Regions from separate parts of the Homo sapiens genome. Here region 2 is linked to region 1. The links come from fine-mapping of genetic effects on gene expression. A gene starts in region 1. The other region holds a variant in brackets. All regions are shown on one strand. Distances are between the middles of the regions.

Region 1 (15,414 bases):
GCCTGGCGAATCTCGGCGCAGTAAGGAGACTGTAGTAGGAGGAGGCGCCCAGGGAGCGTGCATACAGGGGACCCACCAGCTCCTCGTCGCAGCCGTCTAGGGTAGGGAAACCGACTGTTAGTCAGCGCTGGCCCCTCCCAGACCCTTCCAAAGGCCGGCCCACTTAGCGACCGAAGCTTCCCCTTCCGTGCCCCCAACCCCCGCCCCCAGAGGCACACCCAGCCCTACCTTAAAGCCATCTATTCAATCCTGGCTGCAGCAACAGCTGCATGCTCAGAGGAGGCTACCTTCTCCTTCTAGGCAAACCCCTAGGCTACACCTATAGGCCCAAGGCCAGACCCTCCCTAGCTAGCCCAATACCTGCCCTGGTTTAGTACTTTCCCAAACTCAATCCTAAACCTCAGCATCTTCCACAACCTAAGTCAACCCAAGACACCAATCCAGCTCCAACCCTAGCCTCAATCCAACTCGGCCCCCAAAACCTGCACCATCCCCAAATACAGGCCTTGCACCCAACCTCAGCCAGTGCTAGCACCATCACCAGCTCCATGTCCAGCCTTAGCATCAGTCAGGGGCACCAGCTCCTGCTTGGATCCCTGCCACAAAACCCAGCCCCAGCCACAAACCCCAGCCCTAGCCACAAACCCCACCCCTTGGCCAGCTCCAAAGTCCAGCCTTAAGCCCTGGCAAAACCTTAATCCTAGTATCGGTCACCAGTATACACTTATCCCCCAGCCCTAGCCTCAAACCCAGGCACCAGCTCCTGCTTGGATCCCAACCCCAAATCCCTGCCCGCTGACTTCATCCTCTTCCCAGAGCCCAGCCCCAGCCCCGGGCGCGCGCGGCAGCCTCAGAGCTGCAATGCGGAGCGCGGGGGAGAGGCAGGAAAAGATGAGAGCCAGCGGGCGCGCGCCGGCCGGGAAGGACCCGCGACCACCCAGCCGCAATGCGGTTCGGGGCCGCCCTGCAGGCTCTGGACTCCTGGGCCCAACCCCACCTGCCTCCAAGCCCAACACTCACAGTAGCCCCAGCCCTCGGCTCCTGAGACCGCGGCGAGCAGGATGCAGAAGAGCCGGAGATGCATCATGCAGGGCTGACGGTCCCGGCAGCCGCCTCCCTGTGAACGGCTCCGGCTAGGGCTCGAGTTCTGGCTTGGGCTCCAAGCTCTCCTCCTGGGGTTTGCAGCAGACCGCTCTCTCCTCCTTACCCACCCTTCCCTCCCTCTCTCCTTTCGCCCCCAAGCGCTCTGTCTCTCCTCTCTCTTTTCTCTCTCTCTCTCTCTGGTTCCTGGTCCTCCGCTCTTCTCTCTCTATCCTCTCCTTTCCACCCTCTTTCCTCTCACCTCCCCCCTTCCCCAGCCTCTGTCTCCTGGCACGCGCCGGTTTCCCGGACCCCGCGCAAGCGCGTGCCTCAGCCCTGCTGCGAAAGGGCGGGGGTAGAGAGCCTCTCGCCACCGGGAAAACCCCAAGTAACCCGAGGCTGCCCGGGACTAGGGCCACAGGAGTGAGGACAGGGAACCTAGGGCCAGAAGCATCCTGAAAATTTCAAGAAAAGGGAGGTGGTTTGGGGGAGGGGTGCCTGGAAATGGAATGAAGGGTAAGTAAAAGAATCTTAACATTTTCGGAAGGCAAATTATGCTCTAGGAGTGGTGCTGGGCACTGTGAATTTAGCATTTTTGCCCTACTCCACTTTGCAGATGAAAAACCTCAGGCTCAGAGAGGTCAAGAAACTTAGTCAATATCACACAGCAAATGATTATATTCCGAAGCCCGTTCTTTCTTCACTGACAAAGACAGTAAATTATTTTTTCTTTCTTTCGTTCATTCTTTTTTCTTTCTTTCCTTCCTTTTTTTCTTTCTTTCTTTCTTTCTTTCCTCTTTCCTTCCTTTCTTCTTCTTTTTTTTTTTTTCGTAAAATCCAGATCCTGCACAAGAGAGTGAAGTCTTTTGGAGGAGGTGGAATGGGAAAGTGACCCCGTAGACCCTAATCCCCACCTCCCTCTCGGCCCCTCTCCCCGCCTCTTCCTTCCTGTCCCGCTAGTAGTTTAACTTCTACCCCCTGTGGCTATACCTCAGAAACCTGTGTAGCCAGAGATGGGGACGGAGGCCACAGAGCAGGTGGGAGTGGGGGCAGGGAGGGGGAGAAGGGTTACAGAGAGGGAGGAGACAGGGAAGGAATGGGATTCCCCACCTGGCAATGGGCCTCTGCCATCCTATGGCTTATTCAGGATTCTTGGCGCTGTCTCAGACTAGGGGTCCTCCAGATAAATGGGCTGGTGGTGTGAGGCTGGGGTTGTGGGACAGGGACTAGGGCTGAGGGGAAAGGCGGGTTGAACCTAGAGGTCCAGGGTCCCACCTGGGCCCTGAAAACCTGAGTCCCAACCCTGGAGACCCCCTTGGCATGAGTGGTTCAGTGTGCTGGTATTGGAGGTACAGGGAAGGTGGGTATGGAAGGGAAAGAAGAGAAACAGAAACCCACTCCAGACGGAGGTTGGAGTCCAGGGCTCAGGTCTGAGGCAAAGCCTGCATATGGGCATCCTTCCAGGAGAGGGCGCTGCAAAGGGAACTGAAGCTGTAGGATTTATTAATAATACAAACTTTGGGCTGGGCGTGGTAGCTCAGGCCTGTAATCCCAGTACTTTGGGAGGCCAAGGTGGGCGGATCACCTGAGGTCAGGAGTTCGAGACCATCCTGGCCAACATGGTGAAACCCCATCTCTACTAAAAATACAAAAATTAGCTGGGCGTGGTGGTGGGCGCCTGTAGTCCCAGCTACTTGGGAGGCTGAGGCAGGAGAATCTCTTGAACCCGGAGGCGGAGGTTGCAGTGAGCCGAGATCGTGCCACTGCACTCCAGCCTGGGCGACAGAGCAAGACTCTGTCTCCAATAATAATAATAATAAATAATAATAATAATACAAACTTTGTATTATGGCCTTTGGAGAACACAGGTTCTCCCCATCCATTATTTTCCATATTGCCATCTTCACAGCAAACCTTGAGAGGTGGGCTGGTCAGGATTTATAATCTCAACATTACAGGTTAGGTAACTGAGGTCTAGAAAGAGCAAGTGGCTTGCTCAAGGTCACCCAGGAAGCTGGAAGCAGAGGTAGGAGGGGTGCAAGGGAAGCCAAGGCCTGCTGAAGGTGTGCTAGGAAGAGTCTGGAGAAGAGCTTATGTCTCCCCGTGTACTGTTACATCTGGCCACACAGGAGCTCTCAGCTTGGAAGGCAAGTGTGGGCGGGGGAGTTGTGTGGTCAGATGTGTCTCATAAGATCCCGCCTCTCATTTGACCCTCCCAGGTTTCCTGGGGCCATTACTCTGGGGATGAAGAGGACGCATACTCGGCTGAGCCACTGCCGGAGCTTTGCTACAAGGCCGATGTCCAGGCCTTCAGCCGGGCCTTCCAACCCAGTGTCTCCCTGACCGTGGCTGCGCTGGGTCTGGCCGGCAATGGCCTGGTCCTGGCCACCCACCTGGCAGCCCGACGCGCAGCGCGCTCGCCCACCTCTGCCCACCTGCTCCAGCTGGCCCTGGCCGACCTCTTGCTGGCCCTGACTCTGCCCTTCGCGGCAGCAGGGGCTCTTCAGGGCTGGAGTCTGGGAAGTGCCACCTGCCGCACCATCTCTGGCCTCTACTCGGCCTCCTTCCACGCCGGCTTCCTCTTCCTGGCCTGTATCAGCGCCGACCGCTACGTGGCCATCGCGCGAGCGCTCCCAGCCGGGCCGCGGCCCTCCACTCCCGGCCGCGCACACTTGGTCTCCGTCATCGTGTGGCTGCTGTCACTGCTCCTGGCGCTGCCTGCGCTGCTCTTCAGCCAGGATGGGCAGCGGGAAGGCCAACGACGCTGTCGCCTCATCTTCCCCGAGGGCCTCACGCAGACGGTGAAGGGGGCGAGCGCCGTGGCGCAGGTGGCCCTGGGCTTCGCGCTGCCGCTGGGCGTCATGGTAGCCTGCTACGCGCTTCTGGGCCGCACGCTGCTGGCCGCCAGGGGGCCCGAGCGCCGGCGTGCGCTGCGCGTCGTGGTGGCTCTGGTGGCGGCCTTCGTGGTGCTGCAGCTGCCCTACAGCCTCGCCCTGCTGCTGGATACTGCCGATCTACTGGCTGCGCGCGAGCGGAGCTGCCCTGCCAGCAAACGCAAGGATGTCGCACTGCTGGTGACCAGCGGCTTGGCCCTCGCCCGCTGTGGCCTCAATCCCGTTCTCTACGCCTTCCTGGGCCTGCGCTTCCGCCAGGACCTGCGGAGGCTGCTACGGGGTGGGAGCTGCCCCTCAGGGCCTCAACCCCGCCGCGGCTGCCCCCGCCGGCCCCGCCTTTCTTCCTGCTCAGCTCCCACGGAGACCCACAGTCTCTCCTGGGACAACTAGGGCTGCGAATCTAGAGGAGGGGGCAGGCTGAGGGTCGTGGGAAAGGGGAGTAGGTGGGGGAACACTGAGAAAGAGGCAGGGACCTAAAGGGACTACCTCTGTGCCTTGCCACATTAAATTGATAACATGGAAATGAGATGCAACCCAACAACTGTTACTATTTTTGAGTCACCGACTTGGAAGTGATTTGTGGCGGGGCAGAACCGGTGGGTTAACACCCCGCCCCCGCCCCACCCCCCGCCCTGCCCCGCGCTTGGCTCTCTGAGTGGAAGACGCTGAGGGCCTGGGTGGGGGTGGGGGGCTGCTGAGTCTGCTAAAGCTCTAGCCACTGACACCCCCTCCACCGTCACCTGGCCTCAGCCAACAGAGGTGAGGTGGGAAAGCTGCCAGGCAAGGAGGGGCGGTGGTTCCTCTTGCAATACTGTAAGGAAGAGCTTTCTAACAACCAGAGCGCTCTCCAGTAATGGCTGCCTTAGCAAATACTGAGTTCCCGCTATTGGAATGTTCAGACTGTCGGGGACGCTGTGGGCCTTTGCGTGGTGTGGGGGGAGGGGGAGGGGCAGGGGATTCCCGTTTTTGGTGGGCGTTTGGATTTCATAACCACTTTACAATCCCTTCCTAGTGTCTGTGATGGAAAGAAAAAATGAAAAAATGAATTGTAAAATTTGAGTTGAAGTTTTTCCACCTTGAAGAAAAACCTAGGAGGGATTGCAATCTGCAAATTTCCAGAGTAGTTATCACGGGTGTGGTGGGGGTGAGGGATATTTGCTGTTCTCCATCTTCTCTGGGGACTGGGTCAGAGGAAATGCACTGAGCTGGCCGGAAAGAGAGAGGTTGGATATGGGAAAAAACTTCTCTGCAGGCAAGGGCCTGGGATCCAGACCTGGAAGATGGTTGTGGTATCTCCATTCCTAGGTAATCTCTCAGTACAGGCCACTCTCATGTGGAGAGAGGCCACGGCCGAGATGGCCTCCTAGACACGCTCGCATTGATTCCTGGTCTTTGTTTTACACAATCACAACGGGCAGGATGGTGTTCACGTGCGACAGTTCTCGCGGTTTAATATCGGTCAGCAAAGCTGTCCCCACCGCTCCAGCCTGGAGTCTAGGGTCGAGAAGGGCGGGGCGTGGCGAGGAGGTCTCAAGGGAGGTGCTGGCCTGACGGCCCCGCCCGTCCCGCCCTTCCCCGCCCCTCCCCGCCCAGCCCAGCCCTGCCCAGGCTAGCAGTCCTCAGAGCCTCCCGCAGCAGCGGCGAAAAGGGGTCCCCCACGGCCTCTAGGGGCCAGGATCCAGGGAAGGCCCGGAGACGGCGCCGATCCTCAAAGGGTCCCACACGCCAGCCACTGGGGACCGACCTGGAACCCTCCATCCAAGATCTCTGGAATCGCCGCTGAGTCAGCAACGCGCGCGCGCGCCCGCGGAGGCCGCGGCCCCGCCCCGGCCGCCTAGCGCCTGAGTTAACCCCTTCCTATACAGAGCCGCAGGATATTAGCCCTAAGAGGCCTCCACTGTATTCGGAGACCACAGAATTCCTTAGAATCCAAGTCAGTCTCCCCAGCTGAGTTCGGTGAGCTGTGAGCTCTATATTCGATTTTATTTCCGGCCTAGGTCTGCACCTTCCCAGAGTGCCTGCCTCAACTCCTTCACCTCGAAAAGGAGGTGAGGCCGAGTGCAGTGGCTCATACCTGTAATCCCAGCACTTTGGGAAGCCAAGCTGGGAGGATCGCTTGAGCCCAGGAGTTAAAGACCAGCCTGGGCAACATAGTGAGACTCCATTTCTACAAAAAATAAATTTAAAAAATTAGCCAGGCATGGTGGTGTACGCCTGTAGTCCCAGCTCCTGGAGAGGCTGAGGTGGGAGGATCCCTTGAGCCGAGGAGTTCGAGGCTGTAGTAAGCTATAATGGCTCCACCGCACCCCAGCCTGGGCAAGACAGCGAGACCCTGTCTGGAAGAAAAAAAAAAAAGGGTGGGGGAGAGCTGAATCAGACCGAGAAACTGGAGAAACTGGACTCCTTCTCCCCAGACGTGGAGGGCCACCTCCAGAGCTGTGTCCTCGCAGGTCTGGACATCCTCTTAGTAGCCAAGGCGTTTCCCTTTCTCAGGGACCCTGAGACGAGACAGGGGTTCAGAGAGCGGCAGTTGGGTTTTCCTCTGTCCTGTGCCAAAACTCCTCAACAGGGTTTTTAATTGGTTGGTGAGCCAAGAGTTAAAACAAGAGCCTGAAGGCGGGCTTCCGTGACGTCACTAGCACCCCGCGTCCGACCTCAGAGACTGGGGCGTGGCTAACATAGCCTCGTCCCCTCCCTCCCTGTTTCCCCGCCCCTCCCCGCTGTCACCAAGCCAGGGGCACATGATGCAACCCAACGCGGTTTCAGCCGTCTGATTGGTAGCCGCGCCCGGCGCCAGGCACAGGGATTGGACAGAGGAGACTGTGACGAAACCTGGACCCTGCCTAGTAAAGAAGGGAGGAGAGAAAGAAGAGAGAGGGGGGGCCCCCCGGGAGGGAGGGGGCCGGGGGGGCGGGGTCCCAGCTCTGTGCTCGCGCCCCCAGCGCGCCAGTCCCGGGGCTGCAGGGAGCGCAGCGCGCGCGGCCCGGGCCCCGGCCACCGGACGCCCTACCGGACACGACCCTCCCTGGAGCTTGGACAACTGCCCACCTCGGACGCTGCACCGGACACTGCCCCCCACAGGGCTGGACACTCCAACGGACACTACTTCCCAGCTCCGGACATTGCTCCCTCCTCTCCCGGGGCCCTGGACGCTTTTCCCCCTCCCCCCTCCGGGGGCCCAGACACTGAGCCCCCCTCAGCGTCTGGCTAGCGTCCCCTTGCACCCCAGCCCAGGACACTGCCTCCTCCCTGTCCTCTTCTCCCTTCTGCTCCTCCCACCTCATCTTTCCCCTGCTCGGGTCGGAGCCCCGCCAGTTCCTCCGACCCCCTACTGCTCGGCCGCGGCTGCCCGCGCCCCCATCCGCAGCTCCTCGCCCGGATGCCTCTCCCCGGGGGACTATGGTGGCTTCTCTGCTGCCGTCGAGGCTTCACTCTTCTGCACCGGGACTACGGGGACGGCGAGCTTAGCGGGGACGGGGACGAGGACGAGGACGAGGAAACCTTTGAGCTGCGGACCCCGAGTCCAGCGGGCGGCGGGAGGGTAAGTCCCGGGGGTTCGGAGCCTCGTCTCAATCACTCTCGCTGTAACCGGCCGTCACGCTGATCCGCTCCAGCCTCCAGCCACACGCTGCGCGCTTGGCGAACTAGGGATGAGGGAGAGTTTTTTGCCTGGGGGCCAAAGCCCCCGGGAGCTCTCGGAGCAGCAGCCCTACTCGGGATGTGCCTGTGGGCCTCCCGCTGCAGGCTGGGCGCTATCCACCTGCTGGGGGCCCTGAGGCAGGGGAGGCGTCACGCGTGGCCCGACCTGGCCCTGCCTCTCCCTTCCCCGCTGGGCCCGCGTCCCATCCCGTCTCCTTCCGCCTCCGCCAGCGCCGAGGAATGTGGCGAGGCCGGCTGGGCGGCTCGAACGCCTGGGTCCCCCTCCGCTCCCAGTTCGCAAGTGCGGAGGCCAGATGCGAGAGCTCCCGCTGCGGAGACCTGGACGAGGGGGAGAAGTCATCCCAGGATTGGGGTCTGTGGCGGGGACCCCAAGGAGAGGGAGGTGGGAGCTCTTTGAGGACCCCTCCTCATTACCCTGCCACTCAGGACAGAACTCTCGGCTTTCCCGGGTGAGGCTCCTGGGAAACCCCTGAGGGGATGGATGGTGAGGGACACTGGGCTGCTGCCTGGTTTTGTCGAATCTCCCCGTGGGGAAACGGAGGCACGATTGGTGTGGGAGACCTCCATCCCTTGACGTCTCCTCCCCCATCCCTCCTGCACACTGGCGGCCAGACTCCCGTGTGCTGTGGCCCGGGTCAGGCTCCCATCCCCCGCGCAGGGGTCCCCAGCAGGCCCAGTGGCTCGGTGCCCGGGTGGGGCGGGCTGCGCCGCCGGGGCCGGCGCCAGCACCTGGCGGAGGCGGAGGGTGGATAAATATAGAGGAGGGGGGAGGGAGGGAAGCAGGGCACTGCGATTAGGGGAGTTAGCCTAAGAGGGTGGTCAGTACCTGCCACATGTGGTGTGGCTGACAGCCCCACTCAGACCTTCCAGAAAATAGGTGGAGGTTCACGTAGGAAGGGTGCAGGACCCAGGCGTCCCCAAGCTTCCAGCTTGGGCAGGGTCGGCTTTACCAGGCCATTGCCTCCCTCATGCTCCACCTCAACTCCCCCCTTCCCTGAGCCTGGGGACAGGTGTCCCTGGCCCCCTCCCCCACCTCCCCCTCTTGGCTCTAGCAGTCTGGGAGCAATATGAGGATGGCACGGTTCCCGCCTGACTGGCCTCCGGGTTGGGTTTGTGGCCTCTCTCAGACCCCAGTCTACAGTTGAAGTTCCAGGACAGGGGGAAGGGAGGAGGAGGGGGAGGGGGAGGGCAAAACCCTGAACTACACCTGCCTCCAGAGGGTGTGCCATTCCTCAGTCTGGCCCGCCCTTCCTAAGCCCCAGCAAAGGGGCAGGGTCTCTGCTCACCATTGAGTCTCAGGAGTGTCTATGGGAGAATGTAAGACGCTTTTGGAGAAAGCCCTATACTGAAAGGGTCCCTCTGCCCTTCATTCACCTCTGTGCCTACCACCTGTCCTGCCTTGGCCAGGGAGGCAGTGTGGAAGAAGGGAAAATGAGGAGGAGAGGGTGCCTTGGAGCCTGGCAGAACGAGCTCACCTCTCCTGTTTCAAAGATGGGGAAACTAAGGCCCGGAGACGGGAAGAGACTTGCCCAAGGTTCCACAGTGAGTTAGTGGTGGGGCGGGAATTGGAACCCAGGTCTCCTGACTCTCTGCCCAGTGCTCTTTCCACCCTACCCTACCCCTGATTGTATTTTCAAAGGGTAACTGAGAGGAGCCTTGGCTCCTTAGCTCCTGCTGTTCTGAAGAGCTTGTCCTGTTAAGACTGGCGGGAGGGGCGAGCCCAGGGGCTCCAGCGTGCTCCACCCTAGTCACGACCCCACTCTGTGACTCCTCCTTCCTCAATCCCCTGAGCAGCCCTGTCCTGAGGGCAGAAGGCACGAACCTTGCGCAGGAAGGGCTCTGACCCTGAGGGCTTCCCCGCCTGTCTCCCCAGGGTCCCCTGGAAGTGACGCTGACTCAGCCAGTGAGGAGCGGGCCTGTCTCCAACAGGTGAGCTACGCCCCTACGTCCCATAGTCTGGCGACCCCAGCATGTTCCCGGGACCCCCATCCTCTCTGTCTCCCCTAGCGGTTGTGCAATAAGGGAGAGGCCCTATGCCGGACGCTGTGGTTTGGCTGGGGTCCCGGGGGGCGGTCCGGCTGGGGGCGCGGGGAGAAAGAGGGGGGTCGGGGCTATTTCTGGTTCGAGGTCAGAATGGCCCAGCGGTTCCCACAGCCTGGGGGAGGGGTGCCCAGCTTGGGAGCAGACACCCGTGCGGTCTGGGGAGCCCCTACAGAGGAGCCCCCTAGAGGCAGAGTGGAGACCCAACCTTCCCTCCCCTCTGGCCCAGGCTGCAGAGCTGGGAGGAGACTTGGAGCCTCATCCCGGAGAAAGGGCTGCCGGAGGACGACCCGGACATCGTTGTGAAAGGTAGAGACCCCCCTCAGTGCACTCTGGAGGCCCCCAATCCCAACCCCCTAGGGATTAATGTCTCTACTGATGTCCCTTCCCTCCCTCTCCGGCCCCCAGGTTGGCTGTACCGGGAGCCCCGCGGAGGAGGGGCGCGGCCCTGGCTGCCCCCGCGCCGAGCCTGGTTTGTGCTCACGCGGGACTCCCTGGATCAGTTCAGCAGCAGCGGGAAAGGGGCGCGGCGTCTCGGGAGCCTCGTGCTCACCAGCCTGTGCTCGGTGACCGGCCCAGAGCGCAGGCGTAAGGAGACAGGTGAGACCTCCTGGGGACTCTCCTACCTTCCTAGGCAGGGGCCCCGGCAGACCCTAATGGCCCTCCCTGGCCTCTCTTTTCCCCAGGTCTGTGGTCAGTGACTGTGTCTGGTCGGAAACACAGTGTCCGCCTCTGCTCCCCACGCCAGGCAGAGGCTGAGCGCTGGGGGGTGGCATTGCGGGAAGTGATCGCCTCCAAGGCACCCCTGGAGACCCCCACCCAGCTACTGCTCAGGGACATACAGGTACACACCAGGGAGAGCCAGGAGAGTGGTGGACCCCAAAGCTTTCTGGGGTTGTGAGGAACTCCCTTCCCCATCAAGGTGACCCTCTCCCTGGCCCCCTAGGAAAGTTGCGGGGACCCAGAGGCCGTTGCCCTCATTTACCTGAGGAACCCGATTCTGAGACACACTAGTGGAGCCTTGTATGCCCCACTCCTGCCCCTGCCCTATGGAGTCAGCGCCCCAGGTGAGTGGTCCCATGGCCCAAGTCCCCTGGATGGGATGGGGTGGTTCAGAGGTAAGAATCTGAATCCCTTAACTGGCAGGGATCTAAGCATCCTTCATGGACCTGCCAGCTCCTCACTTTTCGAAGGATGAAGGTGAAACTGGAAGCTGGCCAGGGTGGAGGAGAGGAAGCCAGCACACACAAAAGGGCCCCCTTTGGCCACCTTCTCTATGGGTCTCATTCTGACTACTGATGTTCCTTCAGGAGTTTGTACACTCCCCTATTTTTTCATTATCCTCTTGAGACTATGCCATATTACCTTTACAAGTGGTAGAAAAGCTACCACTTTTGTAGAATGTGCTGGCCTCATCCAACTGTACTTCTCCCTAAACGGTGTAGTGACTGGCCCAGGTCCTAAAGTTAGAGGATTAAAGGGTGCTGGGAGAGGAACCCCGGTTTTCTGACTCCTAGTCCAGCCTGTTTTCTGACCTATGGTGGTGAGCCTCAGTATGGAGTTACAGAATCTGGGGTGTGAATCTACAGCCCTTCCCGGCCGTCCGTCTCCCTAAGTCCAAATGCAGGCTTAGTGGGATTGGGAAGGGGATTCCTGGGAGGCAGAGGTTGAGAGTCTGGCTCCGTGGGACCACTGCTTTCCCTTCACTCTTCCTGTCGTTCGTACCCTCCCCTCCCTGCCACCCCATCCCCTTATATTCCCTCTGACCTTCCCCTGGTTCATGCCTTCCTCCCAGGGCGCAGCTCTGTGTCCCCTCTCCAAACCGTCCCTCCGCCCCCACCCTCCCACAGGTCCGGGCTATGCACCCCTGCGCGAGGAGGCGGTGCGGCTGTTCTTGGCGCTGCAGGCGCTGGAGGGGGCGCGGCGCCCCGGGCCCTTGATGCAGGGTGTGCTCCAAACCTGCCGGGACTTGCCCGCGCTCCGGGATGAACTCTTCCTGCAGCTGGCTAAGCAGACCTCGGGCCCTGCAGGTCCCCCCGGGCTCCCGGCTACCCAAGACCCTGCGGCCCTGCGGTACTGGCAACTCCTCACCTGCATGAGCTGCACCTTCCGACCTGGGGGAGCTGTGCGGGGGCACCTCCTGGGGCACTTGGAGAGGTGAGAGGGGCGAGGTGGGGGTTACGGCCTAGGCGAGGAGCTACCGGGCTGGGAGAGAATGAAAGGTCTTTTGCAAAAGACTTGGTAGGTAAAGAACCGAGTAATACATACAGTGCCTTTGTGGGAGATACAAGATCCTATCGCAGTTGTGAGCGGATGAATTACAATAAAACGCCCCCCTTGGGCTGAGGAGTTATGAAAAGGCTGCTTTTCCTCCAGCTGATGCAGGCCAGCGCCAGGGCTTAGGAAAATGTAGTAAAGTGGCTGGATTTCGATTTCAGGCCGAAGGAAGATCACGAAGACTTTTGGAAGTGGTGGAGGCAGTTGGGAGAAAGCTGCCAGGGGACTTGAAAAGTAATTCAGCTCTATGCAAAGCACTGGGGAGAGATTTAGAAGAGCCTTCAAAGAACTTGAGTTGGGGCGGGGAGGAAATCGGCTAGATAAAATAAACTATAAGAGAAGCAGGCAAGAGGGAGGGGGAGAAGAAAGCCCTTGGAGTATTGATCCCTGGGTTCCTCCTAACCCAGGACCGAGCAGGCACTCCCGGACTCGGAACTGGCGGAATATGCGCGCTTCATCCGGAAAGCGCTGGGCCGGACGCGCGGCAGAGAGCTGGTGCCCTCGCTGGCGGAGATTTCCGCGTTGAGCCAACGGCAGGAGCTGCTGTGTACCGTGCACTGTCCGGGGGCTGGTGCCTGTGCTGTGGCCATCGACTCCCACACCACGGCGGGGGAGGTGAGGCCAGAGAAAGGCCCCATGACCTCCAACCCACCCTGCCAGCTTCTCACGCCTGTCTCTCCCTCTTCCTGGACCCTAGGTTTGCCCCGAGTCTAGATTATTTTGGTAAGGGAGGGAGTGGTGGTGACAGGACTAAGAGACCCCTTCCAATTGAATCAACCCCTCCCAGAATCCTGGCAAGACCTCTGAGTGGTCTCCCCTCACCCTCCTCTTCTAGGTGGCTCGAGAGCTGGTGGGGCGGCTGGGCTTGGCCCGGAGCCGCAACGCATTCGCGCTGTACGAGCAGCGAGGGGCCCAGGAGCGAGCCCTGGCTGGGGGGACCCTCGTGGCCGACGTGCTCACCAGGTTTGAGAAGTAAATGTCCAGCCCCAGCCCTGCTCTCTATTAGCCCATCCACTTCTCAGCTGAGGTCAGTCTCTAAGCGGACATTATCCAGCGCTTGCCCCTGGCCCTGCGCTGTGGTGTTCGCTGGTTTACAGACGGACCTGCCCGCCGCAGGTTTGCAGTCCGACTGCAGCATCACCTCCGCTGTCGGCTCCGCCCAGGCCCCGCCCCAAACACATGGCCCCGCCCCCACCCCAAGCTGCCCTCGCCGTAGGGGTCCGGCTTCTCCCTAGCGCTTCGTCCGCTCCTCTTCTGCAGCTTGGCCGCGGAGGAAGCTGGGTTGGAGGACTCGCCCGACTCCGGGTGGAGACTATGTCTGCGTCTTCACGGACCTCTGCACCCTGAGGGGCTGTCCCCAGACGGTCACGAACTGCCTTTCCTCTTTGAGCAGGTGAGGCTCTCCGGCGTTCACGCCTCCAAACAGACCCCCAAGCCTGAACCCCTGGTTTTCTAGGCCGTCTCATTTCATCACTATGGCAGCCCCGCGGGAGGCTTGACTGGAACCTAGACCTGCTCAGATTCCGCGAGGCGTTTTCGCGACGGTTCCGCCGCCGCTCGTACACTGACGCCGGGTGCCTCCCCTGCAGGCTCACGCTCTGCTGCTGCGGGGCCGGCCGCCCCCACCCGACGACACGCTGCGCGCCCTGGCGGCGCTGCGCCTGCAGAGCCTGCAGCGGGACTTCTCTCCGCGGGTGCCCCTGCCCCGCCTGGACCGCCTGCTCCCGCCCCCGGCCCCGCCGCGCGAAGACCCGCCCCGCCCGACCCCCAGGCCGCCCCCTTCCGCTGCCCTGCTGGCCGGGGCGCTCTGGAGCCCGGGCCTGGCCAAGAGGCGGGCGGAGCGGGCCCGGCGCGGCGGGGCCGGCCGCACTGCGGGAAGCATTGCCCGCGAGGGAGGAGGCGGCGCCGGCACGGCAGCTGCCGTGCTGGGCGGCTGGAAGCGGCTACGGGGCATGGGCCGAGCTGAGGCCATGGCCGCCTACCTGGCCCTGGCGGCGCAGTGTCCGGGGTTCGGCGCTGCTCGGTATGACGTTCTGGAGCTGAGCACGGTGAGGGGGAGAAGGGAGAAGGGGACTCTGGCGGCCCAAGCCCCACACCTTTGCCCCAGAGCCACAGGTCCCACGGAGTGTCACGTAATTCCCCACATCCAGAACAGCTACCCATCTCAAACCCCAGGAGTCACCAGCCCTTGGGCCCTCACATCCCTGGAGCCTCAGCCCCCTCCACACACGTGCTGTGAATCATAGGGGGATCAGGATACTCCTGCTCACAGACACCCATCTCCCCCTACCAAAAATAACGCTGGGCTCCTCCTTCCACCCTGACTCTGCCTCTCTGTCTGCAGGAGCCTGGTCGGGGTGCTCCACAGAAGCTGTGCCTGGGCTTGGGAGCCAAGGCCATGTCCCTCTCCCGGCCAGGGGAGACGGAGCCCATCCACAGTGTCAGCTATGGCCATGTGGCCGCCTGCCAGCTAATGGGCCCCCACACCCTGGCCTTGAGGGTGGGAGAGAGCCAGCTCCTCCTGCAGAGCCCCCAGGTGAGTGAGAAGAGGAGTTGTGGGAGGAGGAGAGAAGGGAAGCGATGTCAGGAAGCATTTACAGAACACCAAACCTGGGCCAGGTAGAGCTCTAAGCACTGGGGATCCAGCAGTGATCACAGACAAGCTGAAGGAGCTTACACTAGAGTGGAGTCAGACAATAAACAAGGAATCCCAGGCTATGAAGACAGTGAGAAATGCTACAAAGGAAAGAGTGATGTGACAGGAAGCCAGGGAAGGGTTCTCAAAAAGGGTGCCATTTAAGCTAGCCAGGGAAGACCTGGGAGAACAGCATTCCAGGTAGAAAGAATTGCAAGGTGGCCGGGTGCAGTGGCTCATGCCTGTAATCCCAGCACTTTGGGAGGCCGAGGCGGGCAGATCACGAGGTCAGGAGATCGAGACCATCCTGACCAACATGGCGAAACCCCATCTCTACTAAAAATACAAATTAGCTGGGGCTGGTGGCGCACACCTATAGTCCCAGCTACTCGGGAAGCTGAGGTAGGAGAATTGCTTGAACCCGGCAGGCGGAGGTTGCAGTGAGCCGAGGCACTTCAGCCTGGCAACAGAGCAAGACTCCGTCTCAACAACAACAACAACAACAACAACAAAAAAAAATGTTAGAAGAGCAGAAAGAACCAAGTATAACTGGCACATAGAAATGAAGGAGAGAAGCCGGCCGCGGTGGCTCACGCCTGTAATCCCAGCACTTTGGGAGGCCGAGATGGGCGGATCATGAGGTCAGGAGATCGAGACCATCTTGGCTAACACGGTGAAACCCTGTTTCTACTAAAAATACAAAAAATTAGCCGGGCGTGTTGGCGGGCGCCTGTAGTCCCAGCTACTCAGGAGGCTGAGGCAGGAGAATGGTGTGAACCCAGGAGGCGGAGCTTGCAGTGAGCTGAGATCGCGCCACTGCACTCCAAC
Region 2 (15,414 bases), 130 kb after region 1:
CAATAACGTCCGCCTCAGCCTCACAAAGTGCTGTGATTATAGGCATGAGCCATCACGCCCGGCCCTGTCATTTTTAAAAGATCATTTTAAATGCACTGTGCTAATTTTACTGCTGATGGGCAAGAGTGGAATCAAGAAAACTAGTTAGGAGGCTACTGCTGTAATTGAAGGGAAAGATGACAGTGTGCAGTCTCGAATAGGGTGATTTTGGAATATGCTTTGATGAGCAAAGGTAGAGCTGTCAGTATTTGCTGCTGAATTGGTTGAAAGGTGAGAGAGACTGGAGTCAAGGACTACTCCAGGGTTTTTAAAACCAGTATTGGGAAAAATGGAGTTGTCATACAGTAAAGTAGAGAAGACTGGGGGAGGAGCCGGTAGGAGGACTGGAAATGTGGAATTGGGGTTTAGACACATTAAGTTCATTGCATCAGGTGGACGTGTTGTATTGAGTAGGCAGTTGGAGATACAGACCTGGAGTCTGTGGGAGACAGTGGGGTTTCTTTGGTGGGGGGGTCATCGGCATCTAAGTGCTATTCGAAGTCATGGGACTGCAGAAGATTATATTAACAATGTGAATATTCACAAGCTTGAAAAAATGAATGTACGGAAGAGAGGGGGTCACACTTTACCTCTTATTATCCCACCCCCAGGGGTGACCTTGTGAGCCACACCACACAGGTACACACATGCACGCATATGTACACACACTGTCACAGAGGGGCAAAGGGGGTTGGCGAGAGCGGGACTGAGAGCAGATCCCAGGCCTCAGAAACCCATGCCACCTGGGCCCCCTCCCTGTGGCCTTCCTGGATGCTGTAGGGATAGCAGATCTGTCTGGGTCAGCAGGTCAGGGCGACTGGCAGGAGGGGGTGGCTGGGAGGCCTCTTCCTCCAAGAGCAGGGGCAGCACATCATCCAACAGGCAGAGAAGACCCTCATCCGAGGTAGGGGCAGGTCAGGGTGGAGTGCCTGCCTCCTTCCCCCAGTGCCCCACACAAAGCTCCAAGAGCTCCAACAGGCTCCTGTCTGTTTCCACTTCCCAGGCTTTCTGTGGTCATGTCCCTGCCCACTCCAAAGGGCCATCCCCCTCAGCCTTGCCTCCCTCTCAGACCCAGCTGAATCCCTGCCTCGGTACCGCCCCCTCCTGGGGCACTCCTGCCCCCTTCCTCTGCTGCATCCTCACCTAGCCTCCTATCTGTTCACACCTCCCCTGCACCAGACCTCCACAGAAGTTCAGACAGTGGCTCTACAACCCTACTGGCCCCTATCAATGACTCCTGCCCCCCTGGGACCCTCCACTGGGCTCAGGAAAGACGGGCCATTGTAGCAAAGTAGCCAGTCCTGTAGCCCCAGCTGGACCTCCTGGTGAGGCAGCTTGCCAGATGGTGGGGATCGCTCAGTCCTCTGGGGCAGAACAGGGTGAGTGGGGCTGTCTCCCTTTGATTCACTTAGCCCTCTTTCTTCTTTACACATTTGCAAAATGTGACAGTAGTCATATTACTATTCATTCTAATAACAGTCCTTGCTGGCTATTAAACCTCTATACTAGCACTTTCAGGCATTATCTCCACCATTACTAAAACCGATTAGATAGGTATTATTATACCCATTTTACAGATAAGAAAGACTCAGAGGGCCGGTCGCGGTGGCTCATGCCTGTATGCCCAGCAATCTGAGAGGCCGAGGCGGGCGGATCACCTAAGGTCGAGAGTTTGAGACCAGCCTGACCAACATGGAGAAACCCCGTCTCTACCGAACATACAAAATTAGCCGGTATCCCAGCTACTTGGGAGGCTGAGGCAGGAGAATCACTTGAATCTGGGAAGCGGAGATTGTGGTGAGCCGAGATTGCCCCATTGCACTCCAGCCTAGGCAACAAGAGCGAAACTCTGTCTCAGAAAATAAAAAAAAAAGAAAGAAAGAAAGAAAAGAAAGACTGAGAGAAAGCAAGGAACTTGCCTGAGGTCTCATGGCTAATGGGGTCCAAGTCACAACCTGACTCTACCCCAAGCCAATTCCCACCTAACTCCTCCTGCAGATGCCCCTTGGTTATCCAGAGACTGTGTCTGGCCTTTAATATGGACTTGAGGTGTGATCCTGGGCTGGCTTCTTTCTGGACCTTGGTTTCTGAGTTTTTCGGTTGGTTGGTTCATTTGATTAATTGACAGGGTCTCACTCTGTCACCCAGGCTGGAGTGCAGTGGCCCCATCATGCTCACTGCACCCTCCAACTCCTGGGCTCAAGGAATGGTGCCACTGTGCTGATTTTTAAATTTTCTTTATTTTTGTAGAGATGGGGGTCTCACTGTGTTGCTCTGGCTGGTCTCCAACTCCGGGGCTTGAGCGATCCTCCTGCCTCCGCCTCCCAAAGCGCTGGCATTACAGGCGACAGCCATCGCGCCTAGCTGCGCTGGTAAAACTGGCTAACGCGATCTATCTTAATTAGCCACCCACAGCTGCTACCGCCGCCCCATCCCCAGGGACCACACAGACCCAGGGGACAAAGAAGGGCGCGGGAGACAGCGGCTGAGGAAGCCTTTACTGCGGGGCGGCCGGAGGATCGCCGAGCTCAGGGTCCCCCACCGCACCGCGCCCGGCCTCGTCCTCTGCCCCAGGCCCGGCCCCGCCCCCAGCCTCGGCCCCAGCCTCGGCCTTTGCCGGAACGTCGCCGAACACTTCCCGGTGCATGGCGGTGACGTAGTTGGAGCCGCTGGGGTCGTCCAGGCGCATCCGCAGCAGGGGCAGGAAGCGCTCGGTGGTGAAGTAGCGCAGGGTCGGCTTCGGGGCGCGCAAAGCGGTGAGGAAGACCTGCGGCGGCGGGAGGAGAGCTGTGGCCACCGCTGCGCGCCGGAGGACGCACCGCCCCCACTCCTGGAGTCCAGCCCGGCGCTCACCTCCGCCACCTCCTCAGGGTTCTGCGCCGCCTCGCGAAAGACTTGCTTGCTGTGGGCGAGGTATTGGTAGAAGCGGTGGAAGGTGTGGATGTCCGTGCGGTCCAGCACCTCCTCTGGGCTGCCCAACACCTTCTCCATGAAGGCGGTGTGCACTGGGCCGCACTCGATCAGGCTCAAGCTGCTGGCCGGAGAGCAACGAGTGGGAGGGGGCGGACGCCAGCCAGGCCCCAGTCCCAGCCCCAACCCCAGTCCCAGCCCCAACCACGTCCCGGCCCCCGACCGCGAGCAGCACCGCTGCGCTGGGAAGTGAGGCGGAAAGGGCGCTGGGGATAACCAGAACATTTGAAACGCGGGTTCCTGCCGGAGCAGCCCTCCCAAATCCATCTGAGGCTACAAGGGAGCCCTGGTGTCAGGATTCGAATCTAGCGGGGTCCCTGGCCGCTGTGTGACCTTGGGCCAGTCACCTAACCTCTCTGGGCTGGAGCTTCCCCATAACAATACCAACACTTCAGCAGCTAGGTCAGCAGGTGGCACAATGCGTGCCATGCGCCCAGCCCAAGTGCCTGGCACACAGCTAATGTGAGCCGGGCAGAGAGGGCCAGGGAGATCGCCCCAGAGCGGCTCCCGCAGGACAGGGTGCTCGGCGTCTCTAGGTCAGAGTTAAGAGGGTTCGGGGAACGGGGGTGTTGACTCACTGGACCCCAAAGGGCAGCAGCAGAACCGCCAGACTCTCGCATAAGCCTTCGAGCGCGAACTTGCTGGCGCAATAAACGTCATTGAAAGGCAGCCCTTAGGTGGGGAGACGAGGTTCCTGAGGCGCAGCGGCCAGGGGGTCATCCCCGGGCAGACGGTGCCCCTCCAAGCTGACGGCACCCCACTCCACCCCCCCCGCGGAACCTGCCTTCAAGGCTCAGCTCCGCACACAAAGAATCTGGAGCTGCCGAGGCCACTCCCTACCACTCACCCATCAATCCTCCCACGCTCCCGGTCACCAACACGCGTCCCGAACCGCGCCTCTTCATGTCTGGCAGGAAGGCCTGCAGCATCCGCACAGTCCCTACTACATTCACGTCCAGCACAGAGGCCACGGCGTCCTCCCCCAGCGCCTCCAGCGGCCCCAGCAGGCCCAGGCCTGCGTTACACACTGCGGAGACAAGAGGCCCGACCAGCCCGCCTCAGCATCACCCTCAGCACGGCCTGTCCCCTCGTGCTCCCTGGGCCTGGGAACATGTTGGTTTCAACGCAGGGCGGAGAAGGCTCCTAGGAGCCCATATGCTTCCAGGAGGCTCACCCAGCACGTCCACGCGGCCCTCAGTCACGCGTTCCCGGGCAGCGGCCACGGATTTTGAGTCCCTTACGTCCAGCTGCAACGTCTCCAGGGATCCCGGAGGGCATGCCAGGGCCCGGGCCGCCTCCCACAGCCGGCCCTGTGTTTTCAGGTCCCTCAACGTGGCATACACTGGAGGTTTTGGGAGAGGAGGAAGATCTGACTTCCCTTCTGGCCTCCAAGGGCTCCTCCCTTCTCTCCCTCCCTGTCCCTGCCTATCTATACCTTTGAAGCTCTGGGATGGATCTGAAGCCAGACGTACGGCCAAGTGCAGGCCGATGCCCGAGGAACAGCCGGTGATGAGCACCACGGTGCGGGCCATGGTGAGACTGTGGGGAGAGGCTGGGGCTCTGGGCTTGATATCACCTGCTTCGCCCCGCCCCGCCTGCGGGCCCCCACCCCTTGTTGTGTCTCCCACGCAATCTCAAGGATAAGCCTTCCTGCGGGTCCCTGGCCCGCTCTCCCCACCCTGTTCTGAGCCAAAACAGACATGAGCCCACTGCTTGGAACAACAAACTGTCCTGGTTGCTGGTCAGAGGGAGGGGAGGCTTTACAAGCAGGTGTGGGTTCCCACGTGGGCACAGAGTGGCCCCCTGGGCAGATTCCCCTGGGTATGCCTCTGTGCCACAGGAGCGATTATAGTGACCGCAGTTTGCTGCAGAGGCTGTGAAAGTAAAGGCGTTGGGAGGTGGGAGATGATTGTATATGTGCTGGTTTCGTCCAGGGTTCCTAGCTCATAACTCACATGACCATGGTTACAGTCTTACGTTGTCATGTTGGGGTGCCTCAGGCCTCAAAAAACAGCCTTTCGTCTCTCTGACCTTCTCCTGTCCTCTTTTCAGCTGCCCAAGGCAGGACTCTAATCTGATTGTGGGTTGTAGGATCCTCATTCCAGAGTGGGTCCTTGCCCCATACCCTGGAGAAAGGAATGCTGCACAAAGGCCCAAAGAATCTGGACTGGCCTTGCTGGGCTTAGATCAGACCCTTTTTGCCCAATCACATTATCACAGTTGTCCATGCTTCAGTCATGGACAGCCAATGGAGTTCTCCATAAAAGGCCCAAAGGACAGGGTTCGGGAGCTTCTGAGGGCTGAACGTGTGGAGGCTGACAGAATGTGCCCAGAGGGTGACGTAACCCCAACTCTATGGAGATAGAAGCTCCTGCTCTGGACCCTTCCAGACCGCCCTGTCTGTATCTCTTCATATGGCTGTTTATTTCTATCCTTTAAAATATGCTTTGAGGCTGGGCACGGTGGCTCATGCCTGTAATCCCAGCACTTTGGGAGGCCCAGGAAAGGGGATTGTTGGAGCCCAGGAGTTCAAGACCAGGCCAGGTAACAGAGTGAGACCCGGTCTCTGCAAAAAATATTAAAAAGCTTCCCAAGTAGCCGGGACTACAGGTGTGTGCCATCACTGCCACCATACCCAGCTAATTTTTTGACTTTTTTGTAGAGACGGGGTCTCACTTTGTTTCCCAGGCTTTTTTTTATTTTTGAGACAAAGTATTGCTTAGGTTGGAGTGCAGTGTCTTAATCTTGGCTCACTGCATCCTGCATCTGCCTGGTTCAGGCGATTCTCCTGCATCAGCCTCCCGAGTAGCTGGGATTACAGGCACCCGCCACCACGCCCAGCTAATTTTTAGTATTTTTAGTAGAGACGGAGTTTCACCATGTTGGCCAGGCTGGTCTCAAACCCCTGATGTCAAGCGATCTGCCCACCTCAGCCTCCCAAAGTGCTCGGATTATAAAAAAGTGCCACCCCACCTGGCCCTGTCATTTTTAGAAGATTATTTTATTTTGAGACGGAGTTTCGCGCTTCTTGCCCAGGCTGGAGTGCTGTGGCACGATTCTGGCTCACTGCAACCTCCACCTCCCGGGTTCAAGCAGTTCTCCTGTCTCAGCCTCCCAAGTAGTTGGGATTACAGACACGTCCCACCACATCCGGCTAATTTTTGTATTTTTAGTAGAGATGGGGTTTCTCCCTGTTGGTGAGGATGGTCTTGAACTCCCAACCTAAGGGGATCAGCCAGCCTCCACCTCCCAAAGTGCTGGTATTACAGGCGTGAGCCACTGTGCCCATCCTAAAAGATCATTTTAACTGCTCTGGGGTAATTTCACTGCTGATGGGCAGGAGTGGAATCAAGAAAACTAGTTAGGAGGCTACTGCTGTAATTGAAGGGAGAGATGACAGTGTGCAGTCTGGAATAGGGTGATTTGGGGATATGCTTTGATGAGCAAAGGTAGAGCTGTCAGTATTTGCTGCTGAATTGGTTGAAAGGTGAGAGAGACTGGAGTCAAGGACTACTCCAGGGTTTTTAAAACCAGTATTGGGAAAAATGGAGTTGTCATATAGTAAAGTAGAGAAGACTGGGGGAGGAGCCGGTAGGAGGACTGGAAATGTGGAATTGGGGTTTAGACACATTAAGTTCATTGTATCAGGTGGACGTGTTGTATTGAGTAGGCAGTTGGAGATACAGACCTGGAGTCTGTGGGAGACAGTGGGGTTTCTTTGGTGGGGGGGTCATCGGCATCTAAGTGCTATTCGAAGTCATGGGACTGCAGAAGATTATATTAACAATGTGAATATTCACAAGCTTGAAAAAATGAATGTACGGAAGAGAGGGGGTCACACTTTACCTCTTATTATCCCACCCCCAGGGGTGACCTTGTGAGCCACACCACACAGGTACACACATGCACGCATATGTACACACACTGTCACAGAGGGGCAAAGGGGGTTGGCGAGAGCGGGACTGAGAGCAGATCCCAGGCCTCAGAAACCCATGCCACCTGGGCCCCCTCCCTGTGGCCTTCCTGGATGCTGTAGGGATAGCAGATCTGTCTGGGTCAGCAGGGCAAGGCGACTGGCAGGAGGGGGTGGCTGGGAGGCCTCTTCCTCCAAGAGCAGGGGCAGCACATCATCCAACAGGCAGAGAAGACCCTCATCCAGAGGTAGGGGCAGGTCAGGGTGGAGTGCCTGCCTCCTTCCCCTAGTGCCCCACACAAAGCTCCAAGAGCTCCAGCAGGCTCCTGTCTGTTTCCACTTCCCAGGCTTTCTGTGGTCATGTCCCTGCCCACTCCAAAGGGCCATCCCCCTCAGCCTTCCCTCCCTCTCAGACCCAGCTGAATCCCTGCCTCGGTACCGCCCCCTCCTGGGGCACTCCTGCCCCCTTCCTCTGCTGCATCCTCACCTAGCCTCCTATCTGTTCACACCTCCCCTGCACCAGACCTCCACAGAAGTTCAGACAGTGGCTCTACAACCCTACTGGCCCCTATCAATGACTTCTGCCCCCCTGGGACCCTCCACTGGGCTCAGGAAAGATGGGCCATTGTAGCAAAGTAGCCAGTCCTGTAGCCCCAGCTGGACCTCCTGGTGAGGCAGCTTCCCAGATGGTGGGGATCGCTCAGTCCTCTGGGGCAGAACAGGGTGAGTGGGGCTGTCTCCCTTTGATTCACTTAGCCCTCTTTCTTCTTTACACATTTGCAAAATGTGACAGTAGTCATATTACTATTCATTCTAATAACAGTCCTTGCTGGGTATTAAACCTCTATACTAGCACTTTCAGGCATTATCTCCACCATTACTAAAACCGATTAGATAGGTATTATTATACCCATTTTACAGATAAGAAAGACTCAGAGGGCCGGATGGGGTGGGTCATGCCTGTAATCCCAGCACTCTGAGAGGCCAGGGCGGGCGGATCACCTGAGGTCGGGAGTCCAAGACCAGTCTGACCAACATGGAGAAACCTCGTCTCTACTAAAAATACAAAATTAGCTGGGCGTGGTGGCACATGCCTGCAATCCTAGCTACACTTGAACCCGGGAGGCAGAGGTTGTGGTGAACTGAGACCGCGCTATTGCACTCCAGGCTGGGCAACAAGAGTGAAACTCCGTCTCAAAACAAAAGAAAAACAAAAAAGAAAAGAAAAGGGAAAGGAAAGGAAAGCACTCAGAGAAAGCAAGGAACTTGCCTGAGGTCTCATGGCTAATGGAGTGCAGGTCACAACCTGACTCTACCCCAACCCAAGTCCCACCTAACTCGTCCTGCAGATGCCCCTTGGGTATCCAGTGACTGTGTCTGGGCTTTACTGTGGACTTGAGGCATGATCCTGGGCTGGCTTCTTTCTGGACCTTGGTTTCTGGGTTGTTGGGTTGGTTGGTTGATTAGATTAATTAATTGACAGTGTCTCACTCTATCGCCCAAGCTGGAGAGCAGTAGCTCGATCATGCCCACTGCAGCCTCCAACTCCTGAGCTCAAGGAATGGTGCCACTGTGCTAATTTTTTTATTTTAGAGATGGGGTGTCTCACTATGTTGCTCAGGCTGGTCTGGAACTCCTGGCCTGGAGCGATCCTCCTGCCTCGGCCTTCCAAAGCTCTGGGATTATAGGCGACAGCCATCGCGCCTAGCCGCGCAGATATAACGGGCTAACGTGATCTGTCTTAATTAGCCATCCACAGCCGTCACCGCCGTCCCATCCCCAGGGACCGCACAGGCCCAGGAGACAAAGGAGGGCGCGGGAGACAGTGGCTGACGGAGCCTTTCTTGCGGGGCGGCCAGAGGATCGCTGAGCTCAGGGTCTCCCATCCCACCGGCCCCGCCCCCGGCCTCGGCCCCAGCCCCGGCCCCAGCCTCGGCCTCTGCGGGATCGTCGGCGAACACGTCCCGGTGCATGGCGGCGGCGTAGTCGAAGCCAAAGGGGTCGTCCAGGCGCATCAGCAGCTGGTGCAGGAAGCGCCTGGTTGTGAAGTAGCGCAGGGTCGGCTTCGGGGCGCGCATAGCGGTGAGGAAGACCTGCGGCGGCGGGAGAGGAGCTCTGGCCCGGGCTGCGCGCAGGACGACGCACCGCCCCCGCTCCCGGAGTCCCGCCCCCCGCTCACCTTCACCACCTCCTCAGGGTGCTGCGCCTCCTCGCGGTAGATCTCCTTGCTGTGGTGGAGGTATTAGTGCAAGAGGCGGAAGGTCCGGGTGTTCGTGCGGTCCATCACCTGGTCGGGACCGCCCAACACCTTCTGCATGAAGGCGGTGTCCACAGGGCCGCACTCGATCAGGCTCACGCTGCTGGCCCGAGAGCCGCAAGTGGGCAGGGACGGAGGCGACCCAGGCGCCAAGTCCCATCTCCTGCCCCAGCACCGGCCCCGACCCCGGCCCTGGCCACGACCCAGAACAGCACCGCTGCGTCCCGAAGGTGGAAAGAGCGCTGGGGATAACCAGAACATTTGAATAGCGGGTTATTGCTCGACAGCCCTCCCAAACCCATCTGAGGCTGCCAGGTAGCCCTGGTGTCAGAATTCGAACCTGGCGGGATCCCCGGCCGCTGCATGACCTTGGGCCAGTCACCTAACCTCTCTTGGCTGGAGCTTCCCCATAACAATACCAACACTTCAGCAGCCAGGTCAGCAAGTGGCACAATGCGTGCCAATGCTCCAGCCTAAGTGCCTGGCACGCAGCAAATGTAAGCCGGGCAGAGACCAGAGCGGCTTCCGCAGGACAGGGTGCTCGGCATCTCTAGGTCAGAGTTAAGAGGGTTGAGGAGACGGGGGTGTTGACTCACTGGACCCCAAAGGGCAGCAGCAGAACCGCCAGACTCTCGCATAAGCCTTCGAGCGCGAACTTGCTGGCGCAATAAACGTCATTGAAAGGCAGCCCTTGGGTGGGAAGATGAGGTTCCTGAGGCGCAGCGGCCAGGGGGTCATCCCCCGGCAGGCAGTGCCCCTCCAAGCTGATTGCACCCCACCCCCTAAGGAGCCTGCCTTCAAGGCTCAGCTCTGCACACAAAGAATCTGGAGCTCCGGGCCCGGTCCCTGCCACTCACCCATCAATCCTCCCATGCTCCCAGTCACCAACACGCGTCCCGAACCCGGCCGCTTCATGTCTGGCAGGAAGTCCTGCAGCACCCGCACAGTACCTACTACATTCACATCCAGTACAGAGGCCACAGCGTCCTCCCCCAGCGGCCCCAGCAGGCCCAGGCCTGTGTCACACACTGCGGGGACAGAGGCCCAACCAGCCCGCCTCAGCATCACCCTCAGCACGGCCTGTCCCCTCATGCTCCAGGGGCCTGGGGACATGTTGGTTTCAACGCAGGGCGGAGAAGGCTCCTAGGAGCCCATATGCTTCCAGGAGGCTCACCCAGCACATCCACACGGCCCTCGGTCACGCGTTCCCGGGCAGCGGCCAGGGAGCTTGAGTTCCTTACATCCAGCTGCAACCTCTCCAGGGATCCCTGAGGGCATGCCAGGGCCCGGGCCGCCTCCCACAGCCGGCCCTGTGTTTTCAGGTCCCTCAACGTGGCATACACTGGAGGTTTTGGGAGAGGAGGAAGATCTGACTTCTCTTCTGGCCTCCAAGGGCTTTTCCCTTCTCTCCCTCCCTGTCCCTACCTATCTATACCTTTGAAGCTCTGGGATGGGTCCAAAGCCAGATGTATTGCCAAGTGCAGGCCAATACCTGAGGAACAGCCGGTGATGAGCACCACGGTGCAGGCCATGGTGAGACTGTGGGGAGAGGCTGGGGCTCTGGGCTGGATATCACCTGCTTCGCCCCGCCCCGCCTGCGGGCCCCCACCCCTTGTTGTGTCTCCCACGCAATCTCAAGGATAAGCCCTCCTGCGGGTCCCTGGCCCGCTCTCCCCACCCTGTTCTGAGCCAAAACAGACATGAGCCCACTGCTTGGAACAACAAACTGTCCTCGTTTCTGGTCAGAGGGAGGGGAGGCTTTACAAGCAGATGTGGGTTCCCACGTGGGCACAGAGTGGCCCCCTGGGCAGATTCCCCTGGGTATGCCTCTGTGCCACAGGAGCGATTATAGTGACCGCAGTTTGCTGCAGAGGCTGTGAAAGTAAAGGTGTTGGGAGGTGGGAGATGATTGTATATGTGTTGGTTTCGTCCAGGGTTCCTAGCTCATAACTCACATGACCATGGTTACAGTCTTTCGTTGTCATGTTGGGGCGCCTCAGGCCTCAAAAAACAGCCTTTCCTCTCTTTGACCTTCTCCTGTCCTCTTTTCAGCTGCCCAAGGCAGGATTCTAATCTGATTGTGGGTTGTAGGATCCTCATTCCAGAGTGGGTCCTTGCCCCATACCCTGGAGAAAGGAATGCTGCACAAAGGCCC[A/G]AAGAATCTGGACTGGCCTTGCTGGGCTTAGATCAGACCCTTTTTGCCCAATCACATTATCACAGTTGTCCATGCTTCAGTCATGGACAGCCAATGGAGTTCTCCATAAAAGGCCCAAAGGACAGGGTTCGGGAAGCTTCTGAGAGCTGAACGTGTGGAGGCTGACAGAAGGTGAAGAACTCATCCATGTGCCTGGAGGGTGATGTAACCCCAACTCTATGGAGATAGAAGCTCCTGCTCTGGGCCCTTCCAGACCGCCCTGTCTGTATCTCTTCATATGGCTGTTTATTTCTATCCTTTAAAATATCCTTTGAGGTTGGGCACGGTGGCTGATGCCTGTAATCCCAGCACTTTGGGAGGCCAAGGCAAGGGGATTGCTGGAGCTCAGGAGTTCAAGACCAGCCAGGGCAACAGAATGAGACCCCGTCTTTGCAAAAACTACAAAAAAATTAGCTGGGTGTGGTGGTGTATGCTTAGAGTCCCAGCCACTTGCGGGGTGGGGCGCTGAGGCGTGGGGTTTGGGGGGATGGAGGCTGTAGTGAGCCGAGATCATGCCACTGCACTCCAGCCTGGGTGACGGAGCCAGATCCTGCCACTGCAGTCATTCTGGATGACAGAGTGAGACCCTGTCTCAAAAAAGAAAGAAAAAAATTTTTTTCCTCTGTAATAAAGCAATAAACATAATAAGGGTTTCCCTGTGTTTCGTGGGTCACTGTCGCAAATGAGTTGACTCCAAAGAGGGGAAGGGGGTCATGGGAACTCCAACTTGAAGCCAGTTAGTCAGAAGTTCCAGGGATCAGGACTTGTAACCGTTGGGAAGGAGGGGGTGGTCTCATGGATCTGCACCCTAACCCTGTGGGATCTGATGCTGTCTCTGGTTGATTACATTGGAACTGAATTGGAGGACACCCAGCTGATGTCTGCTGCTTGGTGTGTGTGGGGAAAATCCTCCAAATATTTGGTCACAGAAGTCTTCTGTGTTGGTGACTGTTGCTGTGGCATGCCAGCAAAGGACAAACATGGTTTGAAAAGAGGTTTTCCTGCAACAGAAGGGCATTCTACGTTCAAAGGTCAGGGTAACATTAGTGTTAAAAAGAGAGACGTGGCCGGGCACGGTGGCTCACTCCTGTAATCCCAGCACTTTGGAAGGCCGAGGCAGGTGGATCACTTGAGTTCAGGAGTTAAAGACCAGCCTGGCCAACATGGTGAAACCTTATCTCTATGAAAAATACAAAAATTAGCCGGGCGTGATGGCACAGGCCCGTAGTCCTAACTCCCTGGTAGACTGAGGCAGGAGAATTGCTTGAACCCGGGAGGCAGAGGTTGCAGTAAACCAATATGGTGCCACTAAACTCCAACCTGGGCGACAGAGCAAGACTCCATCTTGGAAAAAAAAAAATTAGCCTGGCGTGGTGGTGCATGCCTATAGTCCCAGCTACCGGGGAGGCTGAGGCACAAGAATTGCTTGAACCCAGGAGGCGGAGGTTGCAGTGAGCCGAGACTGTGCCATTGTACTCAAGCCTGGGCAACAGACCAAGGCTCCGTCACAAACAAACAAACAAACAAAAACAGGGACGTGAGGCAAGGGATGGGAGAACAGGTCCCACCCCAGGGCCATGCTATAGCCCTGAGTCCTCCCAAGCGTGGCAGCAGTGACCTTCTCATTTTGACAGACCCAGGGGACTCATCAGTTTAAGTGGAAAGAAAACAGTACTTTAATCCCACACTTTGGGTGGTGGTGGAGGGCAGGTCATTTCCCTCCAATCCCCCCAGGTCAGACCCCACCAGCAGGCCGTGGGGCCTCCTCCCAGGCCTGGGTTATCCTGTGATGTCTGTCCAGCTCTGGGCCCTGGAATCTGCCCTGGAATTAGCGGAAAACAAGGCCCAGTGGTGGCGAATCTATCACCAAGAGCCGGCCACCCAGCGGGGGTAATATTTGAGGAAGATCTTCTTGGCCAGGTCCACAGTGTCTCCTCGCGGCTGGCTGGGGTACCTCTGCTTGCTGAGAACGAAGGCCTGCTCCAGTTGGAAGACATTTTTGTCAAACTGGTGCTGTTGGAAAGGGATGCCCTGGGCCACACTGTCAACCAGCGCCTCCAGGAAAAGCCGCCAGCGAGGGGTGTAGTAGTTGGCCACCAACCCCGCCAGCTGCTTGTTGGCATAGTCCAGGATGTTGCCTTCTGGCCCCCACAAGGTCAGCTGGTAGCGGCTGTTCTGCTCGTAGAAATCGGCCTCGGCCTCACTGACTGCCGCTGCTCGGGCCTGCTCTAGCCAGCTGCCCAGCAAGAAGCGGCTGTCACTAGCCAGCACCTCGTCCAGTGCCGGCAGCAGCTCATAGGCCAGGACGCCTCCAGCCCTCAACAGGGAGGCCAGCTCCTTGCTCAGGTAGGCGCTTCTTGCCTCCTCATAGTACAAGCTGACCAGCTCCTGCACTGCCTGCCGAGTGAGGTCCAGCAGGTCGTAGCGGAAGGCGGGGCTGGTGGCCAGGGAGGGAGCAGATGTGAGCAGCAGCCGCCAGGCCTCAAACACATCAGATCGGTTGTACCAGATGCTGGTATTCATCTGTAGGGACGGCCGCCTGACCAGCGGGCTACGATTGTGGCCCCTGCAGGCCTCCCCGGAGCAGTTGTACACACTCCGGAGCAGTAGCCTCCACGCTGCCCCTGCGTCCGGGTGGGAGACCCCATACCGCCGGGCGGCAAAGCTGGTCACCCAGGCTGCCAAATCTGGCACTGGGTCCTTTCGCCAGCCCAGCTCAGCCATGAGGGAATAGACCACTTCGTTCTGGCTGATGCCCTCGGGGGCCATGCCCGTGCCTACCATGGTGGAGTTGGGGAAGAGGCGGGCAGCTTCTGGGCCTCCGTTCACAGCCTCTAGGGCTCCAAAAAGACCATGGTTTCCCCCAAAGTTGTGCAGCATGCACCAGATGAAGGGCTGGCCCTGGAAGGAGGCAGTGCGGGTATACACAGGCTGGCTCTCAGCAAACAGGTCCAGAACCAGGAGGCGGCCACGGGGCACAGCTCCCAGCACAGCCCTGATCTGGGCGGGCCCCCAGAACTGCGGCTGGTGCTGGAAGAGCCAGCCTTGGAGCAGCCACACAGCCTCAGTATCCACTGTGGACAGGAGGTAGGGGGAACAGAGAAGAGGAGTGATGAAACAGAGGGCCCAGGGAATGTTCACCCCACTCTACAGACGACTGTCTATCCCAGGTCATGGCTTCCCATGACCCCCACCAGCGGGACGCTCTGTGGCACATACGCGTCCCTCTGAAAACTCCAGGACAGGGTTCAGCAGCTTGGGTGAACATGAGAGTTACCCAGAGGGCTCCTTAAAACATGGAGGTTTCTGAATGGGCGTGGTGGCCCACACCTATAATCCCAGTACTCTGAGGGGCTGAAGCAGGTGGATCACTTGAGCCCAGGAGTTCCAGACCAGCCTGGCCAATGTGGGGAAACCCTGTCTATACTAAAAATACAAAAATTAGCCTAGCGTAATGGCAGGTGCCTGTAATCCCGGCTACTCGGGAGGTAGAGGCACAAGAATCACTTGAACCCATGAGGCAGAAGTTGCAGTGAGCTGAGATTGTGCCACTGCACTCCAGTCTGGGCGACAGAGTAAGATTCTGTCTCAAAAACAAAATCAAGGCCAGTCGCAGTGGATCACGCCTGTAATACCAGTACTTTGGGAGGCTGAGGTGGGCAGTTCACCTGAGGTCAGGAGTTTGAGACCAGTCTGGCCACCATGGTGAAACCTGTTTCTACTAAAAATACAAAAATTGGCCAGGCAAGGTGGCTCACACCTGTAATCCCAGCACTTTGGGAGGCTGAAGTGGGCGAATCATTTGAGGTCAGGAGTTTGAAACCAGCTTGACCTACATAGCGAAACCCCGTCTCTACTAAAAATACAAAAATTAGCCGAGTGTGGTTGGGGGGCGCCTGTAATCCCAGCTACTCAGGAGGCTGAGGCAGGAGAATCGCTTGAACTCAGGAAGCAGAGGTTGCAGTGAACTGAGATCGTGCCACTGCACTCCAGCCTGGGTGACAGAGCGAGACTCTATCTCAAAACAAACAAAAATTGCCG

Evidence for each region.
Region 2: its variant is fine-mapped to the expression of PLEKHH3 in thyroid (GTEx, PIP above 0.99).

Annotation. Positions count from the first base shown.
Region 1 is chr17:42,668,503-42,683,916 of GRCh38, reverse strand. PLEKHH3 (pleckstrin homology, MyTH4 and FERM domain containing H3) reads left to right here and starts at 6,923. Exons shown (of 13, transcript NM_024927.5): 1 at 6,923-7,515; 2 at 9,508-9,563; 3 at 9,904-9,983; 4 at 10,083-10,274; 5 at 10,361-10,518; 6 at 10,621-10,741; 7 at 11,525-11,831; 8 at 12,359-12,566; 9 at 12,787-12,923; 10 at 13,212-13,344; 11 at 13,541-13,999; 12 at 14,296-14,487. The coding sequence starts at 7,354. It overlaps CCR10 (C-C motif chemokine receptor 10), which reads left to right and starts at 2,074. Exons shown (of 2, transcript NM_016602.3): 1 at 2,074-2,117; 2 at 3,300-5,028. The coding sequence starts at 2,094. The coding sequence ends at 4,364. CNTNAP1 (contactin associated protein 1) reads right to left here and starts at 1,386. Exons shown (of 24, transcript NM_003632.3): 1 at 1,021-1,386; 2 at 1-96. The coding sequence starts at 1,087. RefSeq lists silencers at 5,363-5,452, 5,803-5,882, 6,743-6,992, 7,083-7,142, 8,263-8,422 and 4 more and enhancers at 3,072-3,920, 3,921-4,769, 5,271-5,770, 5,771-6,272, 6,253-6,332 and 8 more.
Region 2 is chr17:42,542,061-42,557,474 of GRCh38, reverse strand. It overlaps NAGLU (N-acetyl-alpha-glucosaminidase), which reads right to left. Exons shown (of 6, transcript NM_000263.4): 6 at 13,026-14,447. The coding sequence ends at 13,237. It overlaps HSD17B1 (hydroxysteroid 17-beta dehydrogenase 1), which reads right to left and starts at 4,552. Exons shown (of 6, transcript NM_000413.4): 1 at 4,445-4,552; 2 at 4,184-4,351; 3 at 3,857-4,036; 4 at 3,588-3,681; 5 at 2,893-3,070; 6 at 2,261-2,806. The coding sequence starts at 4,541. The coding sequence ends at 2,537. It overlaps HSD17B1-AS1 (HSD17B1 antisense RNA 1), which reads left to right and starts at 2,673. Exons shown (of 1, transcript NR_144402.1): 1 at 2,673-5,039. It also overlaps the pseudogene HSD17B1P1. RefSeq lists enhancers at 978-1,525, 2,341-2,908, 8,400-8,459, 8,490-8,569, silencers at 2,532-2,691, 8,960-9,209, a promoter at 4,552-4,628 and a cis regulatory region at 5,078-5,094. The variant A/G (reference allele first, on the strand shown) is at 11,335.